2 separate regions of the Homo sapiens genome follow, and region 1 is linked to region 2. The links come from fine-mapping of genetic effects on gene expression. A gene starts in region 2. The other region holds a variant in brackets. All regions are shown on one strand. Distances are from middle to middle.

What was found. PIP is the estimated chance that this variant, and not a neighbour inherited with it, causes the effect.
Region 1: its variant is the best candidate, but not a certain one, in a credible set for the expression of LZTS1 in whole blood (INTERVAL, PIP 0.87).

Annotation. Positions count from the first base shown.
Region 1 is chr8:20,248,897-20,254,264 of GRCh38, reverse strand. It overlaps LZTS1 (leucine zipper tumor suppressor 1), which reads left to right. Exons shown (of 4, transcript NM_021020.5): 3 at 680-1,483; 4 at 3,902-5,368. The coding sequence ends at 4,543. Among named protein-coding and RNA genes, the nearest start is that of LZTS1-AS1, 24 kb to the left of the region's middle. RefSeq lists enhancers at 4,156-4,699, 4,700-5,241. The variant C/A (reference allele first, on the strand shown) is at 2,284.
Region 2 is chr8:20,301,302-20,306,669 of GRCh38, reverse strand. LZTS1 (leucine zipper tumor suppressor 1) reads left to right here and starts at 2,707. Exons shown (of 4, transcript NM_021020.5): 1 at 2,707-2,930. RefSeq lists a silencer at 2,648-2,717.

The DNA of each region.
Region 1 (5,368 bases), 52 kb after region 2:
CCTCACACCAGCTCAAGCCCTCGTGCGTCCCACGAGTGGACACTGAAATCAATTTTCCTATTCAGTCCTCTGCCCCTTGCCCTGGGGAAATGAATCCCCGGCTTTGATTTACTAGGAAAGAGCCTCTTATGTTTGCATAGAGCATTCAGCTTTTCAAATTAAGGGGCTTGTAAACTGTGAAGCACTCTACCAGGGAAAATTACAGTTTTAAAAAAGGATCGTGATTTGGAGTGAGCCTCCCAACCCTGTAAGGAGGCCAGGTCCGTGTCCTTGCTCCAGGCTTAATGGAAGAGGCAGTGAACAGGAAGAAGGGATGGACCTAAAGAGGGACAGCAAGCTCGGCCAGCCTGATGCCCTAACTTGCCCCACACAGAGACCTAGAGCAGGAGCCTCAAGATGGTATTTATCACCTCGGGAGGGCTGGGGCAAGCTGGTGGCAGGTTGCTATTTCATAGAACAAAGTGCCCAAGTCGCCATTAGGGTTTTTCCTTCCTAAGAGAGATGACATTCAGCTGCTTCAAAGCAACAGGCAAGGTCTGCTGAGACAATTGACCAAGAGGGGTGCTGCGTGCGCTCAGAGAGCCCAGACTGGCTCAAGGTCGGCACGCGTGCCTGGGGAGGGAGGGTGCAATGCGCGCGCAGGGGAGGCATGAGTCACCGCGGTCCTTTTCCTCTACAGGGCTCCGAGAAGGGTGCAGTGAGGCCCACAGCCTTCAAGCCTGTGCTGCCACGGTCAGGAGCCATCCTGCACTCCTCCCCGGAGAGTGCCAGCCACCAGCTGCACCCCGCCCCTCCAGACAAGCCCAAGGAGCAGGAGCTGAAGCCTGGCCTGTGCTCTGGGGCGCTGTCAGACTCCGGCCGGAACTCCATGTCCAGCCTGCCCACACACAGCACCAGCAGCAGCTACCAGCTGGACCCGCTGGTCACACCCGTGGGACCCACAAGCCGTTTTGGGGGCTCCGCCCACAACATCACCCAGGGCATCGTCCTCCAGGACAGCAACATGATGAGCCTGAAGGCTCTGTCCTTCTCCGACGGAGGTAGCAAGCTGGGCCACTCGAACAAGGCAGACAAGGGCCCCTCGTGTGTCCGCTCCCCCATCTCCACGGACGAGTGCAGCATCCAGGAGCTGGAGCAGAAGCTGTTGGAGAGGGAGGGCGCCCTCCAGAAGCTGCAGCGCAGCTTTGAGGAGAAGGAGCTTGCCTCCAGCCTGGCCTACGAGGAGCGGCCGCGGCGCTGCAGGGACGAGCTGGAGGGCCCGGAGCCCAAAGGCGGCAACAAGCTCAAGCAGGCCTCGCAGAAGAGCCAGCGCGCGCAGCAGGTCCTGCACCTGCAGGTACTGCAGCTTCAGCAGGAGAAGCGGCAGCTCCGGCAGGAGCTCGAGAGCCTCATGAAGGAGCAGGACCTGCTGGAGACCAAGCTCAGGTCCTACGAGAGGGAGAAGACCAGCTTCGGCCCCGCGCTGGAGGAGACCCAGTGGGAGGTGAGGCCACACAGGGCTCATGGGTTTGGGTGGTCAGCGGTTTGGCGCCAGTACCCCCCTCTCCTTCTGGTGCCGGCCAATAGCGTGCAAACACAGACCGCGCAGGCAAGCGGGGCTAATGTGCTGGCTTTATCACCCAAAGAAGGGGCTCCCTGCAAACCATGTTGGGGGATCGACTTACATCTGAGCTTCCTCCTGTCCCCACCATCACCCTCATGGCTCCTAGATTTCAGTTTCCCAAGTGAGCCATTAAATCATGAAGCCGGAAGCCAGATGACCAAGGCCCAGCCAGGCTGTGGGCTGACCTCCCTTCCATCAGCTCCCAGGAGGCTCAGAAGAAGAACAAGCCGTGCCTGAGTTCAGGCGGGGCCAGGGGCCCAAGAGAGCACAGAATGCATTTGTTGCTTTGGAGGGAGGGACTGCACCCACTAGTAAGAGGGACCCTATTGGTGGCAGGTTTCAGTGATGGAAGTGGCCACTCCTTGCTGAAGTGTAAGTGGAACTTCTATTTGGTGAGCTGAGATGGAAACCTAGGAGAGGAAGTAAAGAGTCCCCCACTCACACACTTACACACTCACACACACTCACTCACCCGGTCACACGTGGAAATGAGGCATCTGTACCTGACCGTGCTGGAGAACCCCATAACCTCTGCATCTATTAGTGGGAAAGCAGCTTTTCTCACCAGCCTGGTGGTCTGGATGACTCATGGAGTTCAAGCCCATCGTTGAGGCTCTTTACATGCTCGCACCCAGCTTGGTCTGTCCACGTGCCTGCCTCACCCCCAGTTCAGAGTCCAA[C/A]TCTCAGTCTACACGCAAACCCCTGGCTATGTGCAAGTCAACAACCAGTGGTTTAACTTGCCCACTGCTGGCAGCTGTATCACCCCCATTTAACACCAATGGTATTGGTTTTGGTGTCAGCCTGATTTCCGTCATCGACGTTTATGCCCACATCCTCTGACCTCACCCCTGCATGCACCCAGCCCTCCTCTCTCCTGTCTACTGGAGTAAAGACTACCTCACAAATTCACTGCTGTACCCAGTGACTAGTATCATGCTGGCTTGGATGCAGAGCCCAATCCACATCTGTCAAACGAGGAATCATTGTCTTCTCCTCTTGCTCTTCTTCTCTATTTCCACCCCTATCCCCCATCAAAATTTGGCCAAGAGCAATGATGAAAACCGAAGCCACAGGTTAGACCCATGTGTCTCTGGATCTTGGCCATCTGGGGTCATGGGAGACCAAGGCCAGTCTGGCTGAATCTTAAGAGTGAATGAAGTCCAGAGCATGTGGCTCTACAGAATGGATTCTTGGAACTAGCCTGGAAGCCACCTTCACATTTCCTTTCACAGTAGAAATTTCCCCTTGCCCTCAGTGAAACACTGCACAGTCCTGGAGAAAATCCGACCCTACCCAGGATGCGTGCTTGGGACCAAGAATTTCATTCCAAGGCCAACCCTGTATTCATGCCACGAAGGGAGTGACACAGTCATGGCTGAGGCATGGGCCTGGCTTTGAACCTCAGCTTGACCACTTATGATCCAGGTGATTGTAAATACATTAGCCATGGTGGCAATGGGGTATAGTGATTAAACTGTTGGGATCAAATCTCTACTCTTATACTTTATATTTTATATATATATATATATATATATATATATATATATATATATATATATATATTAGCCCTCAGGCTGGTCACTTCACCAGCTATTTGCTATCATAACCTCTCTGTGCCTCAGTTTCATTGATGTAAATTGAGGACTACTAATAGTACCTACTTCATCGGGTTGTAAGGAATAGATGAGCAAATGTATGGCTTGGCACTTAATAACACTACAAATTATTAGTGAAAGTATGTTTATAATAATATACTTCTGTGTGGCTAGGCGTGGTGGCTCACGCCTGCAATCCCAGCACTTTGGGAGGCAGAGGCAGGCAGAGCACTTGAGGTCAGGAATTCGAGATCAGCCTGGCCAACATGAGGAAACCCCGTCTCTACTAAAAATACAAAAATCAGCCAGGCATGGTGGCAGGTGTCTGTAATCCCAGCTACTTGGGAGGCTGAGGCAGGAGAATCAGAGGGGAGGCGGAGGTTGCAGTGAGCCAAGATCACGCCACTACACCCCAGCCTAGGTGACAAAGCGAGACTTCTCAAATAATAACAATAATAATATACTATGTGTCATTATACATGATTATTATTATTTTATCATTTTACTATATAGCCTAGCTCGATAACCTGGGGAAAAGGTCACAGCAATGTTCAGCTTACTTTCAGATTGGACAAAGGCTGGAATGCCTAACACCGGGCCACCGCATCCGGAGTGGCTTGGTTATTTTAGGCAGCTGAGCTGTCACTTCCCTGGGTAAGGACACTCACCTCTTGGCACTCTGTCTCCACCCCACCCTCGGCAGGTGTGCCAGAAGTCAGGCGAGATCTCCCTCCTGAAGCAGCAGCTGAAGGAGTCCCAGACGGAGGTGAACGCCAAGGCTAGCGAGATCCTGGGTCTCAAGGCACAGCTGAAGGACACGCGGGGCAAGCTGGAGGGCCTGGAGCTGAGGACCCAGGACCTGGAGGGCGCCCTGCGCACCAAGGGCCTGGAGCTGGAGGTCTGTGAGAATGAGCTGCAGCGCAAGAAGAACGAGGCGGAGCTGCTGCGGGAGAAGGTGAACCTGCTGGAGCAGGAGCTGCAGGAGCTGCGGGCCCAGGCCGCCCTGGCCCGCGACATGGGGCCGCCCACCTTCCCCGAGGACGTCCCTGCCCTGCAGCGGGAGCTGGAGCGGCTGCGGGCCGAGCTGCGGGAGGAGCGGCAAGGCCATGACCAGATGTCCTCGGGCTTCCAGCATGAGCGGCTCGTGTGGAAGGAGGAGAAGGAGAAGGTGATTCAGTACCAGAAACAGCTGCAGCAGAGCTACGTGGCCATGTACCAGCGGAACCAGCGCCTGGAGAAGGCCCTGCAGCAGCTGGCACGTGGGGACAGCGCCGGGGAGCCCTTGGAGGTTGACCTGGAAGGGGCTGACATCCCCTACGAGGACATCATAGCCACTGAGATCTGAGGGGCTGCCTGGGAAGGCGAGTCTGGGGACCTGGCACTGGGAGGCAGGGCTCTCCCGTGCATCCCCCCTGCTCAGCAATTCAGACCCCTCTGAGAGACGCCACTCCCTGGGACACAGACCCAGGACCCCCGAGGGGAGGGCAGGATGGCCTTTCCTTCCCTCTCTGATGTCCCAGTGCTCACCAGCCCTGCAGCCCACCAGACGTCAGGCCCTGACTCCTCTGGCTTTCCCAGGAGATGGGTCCAGGGGTCTGTCTGCTTTGGTTAAGGGCTCCCTAAACTTTGGCCTTTGTTCGAAATAGATATCCTCTCCCCCTCCTCCAGGGAAGGTGGCCACAGCAAGTACAGCGGCTCCCCTCTGCTTCTCATCCCAACCTCTTTTTCCTCCTGGACACATTGGAATGCCTTGGAAATAGAAAGAAGCCATATATGACCAGAAGCCTTGGAACCAGCCCCATCAGAACCTGAGCTATTTTCCTCTGGCCGCAGAGGTGTAGGGGTGGAATGAGCCGCGGGGAAGCTGGCTTTGAAACCTCAGGGCTGTCCCAGCCCCGGCAAGCCACAGGAAGGAGGGGAGAGACAGGCAGCCCAGCAGTGTGGAGACCCTGCCACAGCCAGAGGAGGGCAGAGGGAGAATCCAAGGGTTGAGAGCCAGTGGCGGGTGATGGCCAGCCCCTGGGGCCCAGCCCCTGTTTACTGGTTCTTGCAAATGGGAGCTGAGCAGCCTCTGGACAGCCAGTGACCTTTGACCTCGGTGACCACTCTTCTTTAAGCCATAGACCCTGAGGCCCTGGGCTGGGTGCTGGGAAGGGAGGGTTGAAACCAC
Region 2 (5,368 bases):
GTTCCATAGGGTATCCCATTTCCACCGCTCATACACAAACCAACACACTGCTCATACCCTTTGCCTGACTCAGTCATTCCAGGAAGGCTGCACATCATACCCAGCTTTCACCTAGAATGTCACTGACAAAGGTGTCAGTGCTGAAGGAGGGTCCTTAAGGAGTATCTTCTCATCCAAACCATCCACTTTCCAGATGAGGAAACTGAGGCCTCATCAGGGACTCCAAACCATCCACTTTCCAGATAGGAAACTGAGGTCTCATCAGGGACTCCAAACCATCCACTTTCCAGATGAGGAAACTGAGGCCTCATTAGGGACATGGCTTGTCCAAGAGCATATAGTCAGCAGTAGGGCCAGAACAAAAAGTGGGCTTCCAGAGTCCTTTGTCTCTTCCATGGAATCTCACCTCCGACGATGTGAAAATGAGTTTGAAGTCTGGAGCCCACCTCATACCTTAATCTACCTTCCAGGAGTCTGCTCTTTCCTTAAAGCGCTGGAATGTTTGATCGATATTAACTCATTCAGCTAAAATTCTTGAGATACTCTCACCAGCAAGCAAGAATACATGTTCTCTGTCAATAAATGCAACACAAAGAAGCATGGCGCTTTAGAAAAAGAAGACATTATTTTGCCCTGGACGATAAGAGAAGGTGTGAGTAAGGGTTCCATATTTTGTCTCAGATTTTGAGAGGTAGAGTTAGAAGAGCAGGAGAAAAGCTTTTCAGACTGAGGGGCAGGTTTATACAAAGGTGGGGAAAAGGAGGTGATGTTCAGGAAAAGGCTGAGTAGCCTTTGGGGTTGACACTTAGAAATTGTCGTATTGCTTGTAATTACTGCCACGTGTATGTACTTACCGCAAGGCAGTGGGTTTCATTTAATCATCAGAACAAACCTATACATGAGAAATTCATTCATTTAACAAATACATATTGAGTGCCTACTATGTTGCCTGGCAAGTTCTAGGTGTCGGGGATACATCTATGAATAAAACAGACCAAGTCCCTCAGCCACCAATAAAAGAGAACAAGTTCCTGCCTTCAGGGAATTTACACTGGGACTTGTTACCTCATTTCACAAATAAAAAAAGAAAGAAAGAAAAAGAAAAACTGAGAAAGAGGGAGGGGAAGGTAATGGCTCAAATAACAAGCAGCGAAGCCTGTCTGTGTTCTTAAACCCTCGCGGTGCCATCTTTCAGGAAGCCTAGATTCGAAGGTCAGAGTCTTCAGGGTCAACAACCGAAGGCAGTGAGATTCCCCTACAGGGTTTTGAGCAGGGGTGTGGCAGAAACCATATGGCTTGTTTTCCTTTGAGCTGTCCCCCCTGCCACCACAATTCTATTTAATTTTTTTGTATTTATTTATTTATTTATTTATTTTGAGACACGGTGTCACTCTGTCACCCAGGCTGGAGTGCAGTGGCACTATCTTGGCTCACTGCAACCTCTGCCTTCCAGGCTCAAGCAATTCCCAAGCCTCAGCCTCCCAAGTAGCTGGGATTACAGGCTCCTGCCACCACACCCAGCTAATTTTTGTATTTTTTTTTTTTTTTTTTTTTAGTAGAGACGGGGTTTCACCATGTTGGCCAGGCTGGTCTTCAACTCCTGACCTCAAGTGATCCACCAACCTCGGCCTCCCAAAGTGCTGAGATTACAGGCATGAGCCACCGCGTCCGGCCCCCATGCTATTTATAATCAGATCGGCTATGTCAATCCTAATCCATTACATCTATCCCCCACCCCCCAACACACACACACACACACACACACACACACACACACACACACAGGCTTCTTTCAAGATGAGGCTAACACTCCTTGGGCAGAGCTGCCATCTTCCCGCCAAGCCTGGTTTTAGAGGATTAGCCTCAGTGCACCCTCAAGCCCCCAAGCCTCATGCTGCACCTAGCACTCCGGTTAACTGACCCTTTGTCCTACAAAACCTTGTAAGCTTGAATCCTCTCCTGGCTCAGTTGCTAGAAGTTAAAAGTGAGGGTGGTTGAGAAAATGATAGTATTATAAGGGGACTGGGTGAGACTAATAGCTATAAACTTGAAACAGGCCTCTGCTGTCACCTGAAACTCAGCTCCCTCAGAGCTGGAAAAGTTTGCTTTTGACATGTTTTGGGAGTGGGAGTCCCGGTGCTCTGGACTCTAGCCTGTAATCCTGGTGTGGTTCGCAATGCCCCTCACTTGGGTGCTAGTCCAGTCCTTGAACAAAACACACGCCCTTTAGTGCGAGTCGGGAGCGGGAGAGACGGTATTAAGAAAAATAAACTGGCGATTAAGAGGAAGGGGTAATGAAGAAAGGGGAACATACACAGAACGGGAGAAGGAATGGATTTTAAACAAAACTGGAGTAAGAATTTCAGGTAATGAAAGGGAAAAAAGGATGCGACAAGAGCAAGACAGGAACAATCGGAGAAAGGGGGCCAGGCAAGAAAGGAAGACTGAGGGGGCAGGGTCGCCCAATGGGGCTGATGGAAGTGAGAGCAGAGAGACGGGACCCGGGACCCCGCGCAGGCCGCGGGCGCGAAGGAGCCGCGAGGTCGCGAGCAGCCCCAGCTGTCAGCCCGGAACAAAGGCCGCCGAGCGGCACAGACCAGGCTGCCGGCAGCTCGCTGCCAATCAGCGGCGCCGGCTCTGGCCCCGCCCCGGGCCGGCCCCGCCCCGCCCCGCCCCGCCCCGCCCCGCCCCGGCTCCGGGACCCGCGCAGAGGCCGGCGCGCCTGGAGCTGGCGGGTTGGCAGCGGCCGGGCGGGGAGGCCGAAAGTTTCTCTGCCCGCCTCGGCCAGTGAGTGGGAGCCGGGAGCTGCATCCCGCGCAGTGGGACCGGCCCGGCCCGCTCAGCAGCTCTGGAAAAAGAGAGACGGGAACACACCGGGAAACACTGGGAAAAAAAAAAAGTCTCAAGTGCGCCCGAGGCGCAGGGGGCAGGTAAGGTGCGGTGGCCGGGGATCTCCTCGCCCCTGGAGGGTCTGCTGCCCTGGCTGCGGGAAACCGCTTTCCCCTCGCCGGGCCGGACCGTCCGTGCGTCCGCGCGTCCGTCGGTCTTTGTCTGTCTGTGTCCGTGGCTGTCGAGGTGTCTTTGTCTCCGCGTGGAGCTGTCAGGGTCTCCCCTCTGCAGGGTGGGCGCCGCTTCTCCGGCCCGGCCCAGAGGAGGTGACTGTGCGTCTGTCCTCCTGTCTTTGTCTTCGTGTCTCCTGCAGACGGGGTTCGTCTATTCCCAGCACCGATGCTGATCCTGGCGGGGACGTCAGTGTTAGGTGACACTGGTGTCGGAGGTGAAGAAGTGGGAGGTGGGGACGCGAGGCCGCAGGAGCAGGGGCCGCAGGAAGAGGGTCCGGCGGTCGGTCCGGGCCGCTGAACTTCGCCGCCTGGAACTTTGCAGATGAGCTGTGTCCACACCGGTGGGGAGGACACCGGTGCGTTGCAGCCAGAGATTTGAAAGGTTTCCCTCAAGGAATAAGTCACACGGGCGGAGGTGGTTAGAGAGGAAGGTGGTAAATCGAAGTGTCTAAGTGGCTCCCTGGGGCTGCAGCTTCCTGGGGTCGGTCCTGGATGTGCAATTCAGGAATTTAGTCAAAGCACCATGCACACACAGACAGCCCCACACTACCTTCACTTCTTCCACCGCCACCCTAGGCAGCCAGACCTCACCCCTCCACCCTGCCACAGGCTTTGCTCTGGCTGGAGGGGCTTCAGAGGTCGCAGCTTGGCAGCAACAGGCATCCCCGAGACACCAAGGGCCAGGTGATGTCTCTTTTTCGTGCTCCAAGTGGAAAGGTTTGAACTGTGGAGCAAATGAGCCTTGTGCTCGCCCACGAGTATGTCAGGCCTGGGAAAGTGCTCCAGACTTGTTAGCTTCGCAGTCTTCAATTTCCCAGGAATAAGAAGTGCTTAGGGATCTGGCCTCCTAAAGTGTTTCCTGTCTCACTTATTCCCTCCACACCGTCCCGCTGCCATCAGCCCCTCTACTCTCTGGTCCCGGGCGCTGGGAAAGTACTGAGGAGGCACTGAGTTCTGGACCATGCCGGGCAGGCGCTGCTCCTAATAAGGATCCCACACTCTGCTGGAAGTGCAGCCTAATAGGAATGCTGGGAGCCCAGGAGCCCAGCCACAAAGAGATGAGCTATCTGCTTGGCAGTTCCTGCACCAAGACCCTGAGAAGAGTCTGCGGGTACCGGCAAGAGGGTGTTTGCAACCTGAGCTTTCTCTAAGTTCAAAAACAATTTTCTGCAGGCATCCAGAGGGAGAATGGAGGTGCCCGAAGAGTGTGCGCATATGGGTATTAGAGATAGCATGTACAGACGGGAAAGGTGTTTGTGTTTAAGAGTGGAGTGGAACATAGTCTGTGGGTAGAAGTCTGTGGGCAGAGAGCATGCAGGCTAATCAGGCGTGGCGTTACACCTTGTATTTATCCAGCGCTTTTCTTTGGAGGCTCTTTCTGCTCATCATAGACGTTATCTCATACGTTATCTCCTTTATCCTCACAACATAACTACCAGGTTGGTGCGGTGGGCTCTCTGTGCCTGCCAGTGAAGAAACGGAGGCGTCAGAAGGGAAAGGCTTTCCCTAAGGTCCCACAGCTAATAGGATGGAGCAACTGGGAGTCCTAGTAAGAGGTCTCAGCTGGGTGGATGTGAGTGTGGGGCGCTCACTCTGCTTAAGAAGAGAAGAAAACTAGTAGAAAAAGAACGGGCATCTCTGTGGGTGTCTATATGCAAGCAAAAGGGAGGGCGGGACATTTGATGTGCTGAAGATGGTTGTTAGTTAACATTTATAGCAGCGGCTGTGTGCTTCACGAGGTAAACCTGTCTCAGCAGTTCAGCTTGTGCATTTGTGTATCTGCAGGAGGTGCCCCCAGCTGTGTGTGCCTGGGTCGATGTGGGGCAGGGGTGCTGTCATAGAAGGAGTGCTGCTGCGTGGGGTGCCCTGGGGAAAGCCAATGCTTTGGGAGTGTGTGAGGGAAAGATGTGCCTTTCAGTTTTGAGAAGCCGTGGGTCAGCGTGTATAGCAAAGCTATACATGGGCTCCAGACGTATATAAATGGCTTTCTAATCCTGAAAACTTATTTATATGCCTTTGCGCTTATTCAACGTTCATTTCATAAATATTCATTGGGCGCCTACCAAATGCAAGGCTCTGAGCTGTGCAGCGAGGCTAGGAAGATGAATAATGTAATGATGACAGACCTATGGGTAAGCACCTTATAGACCAGTGTAATGGATAATACCGTAACACTTAATGCCAGCCACTAAATCCACTGTGTGCCTGGAACTTTTTATTCATTATCTCATTTAATTTTCACTGCAGCCCTGCGGGGTATGTATAATTATTAGATGAGGAGAGTTAAGTAATTTAGCCAGGCTACA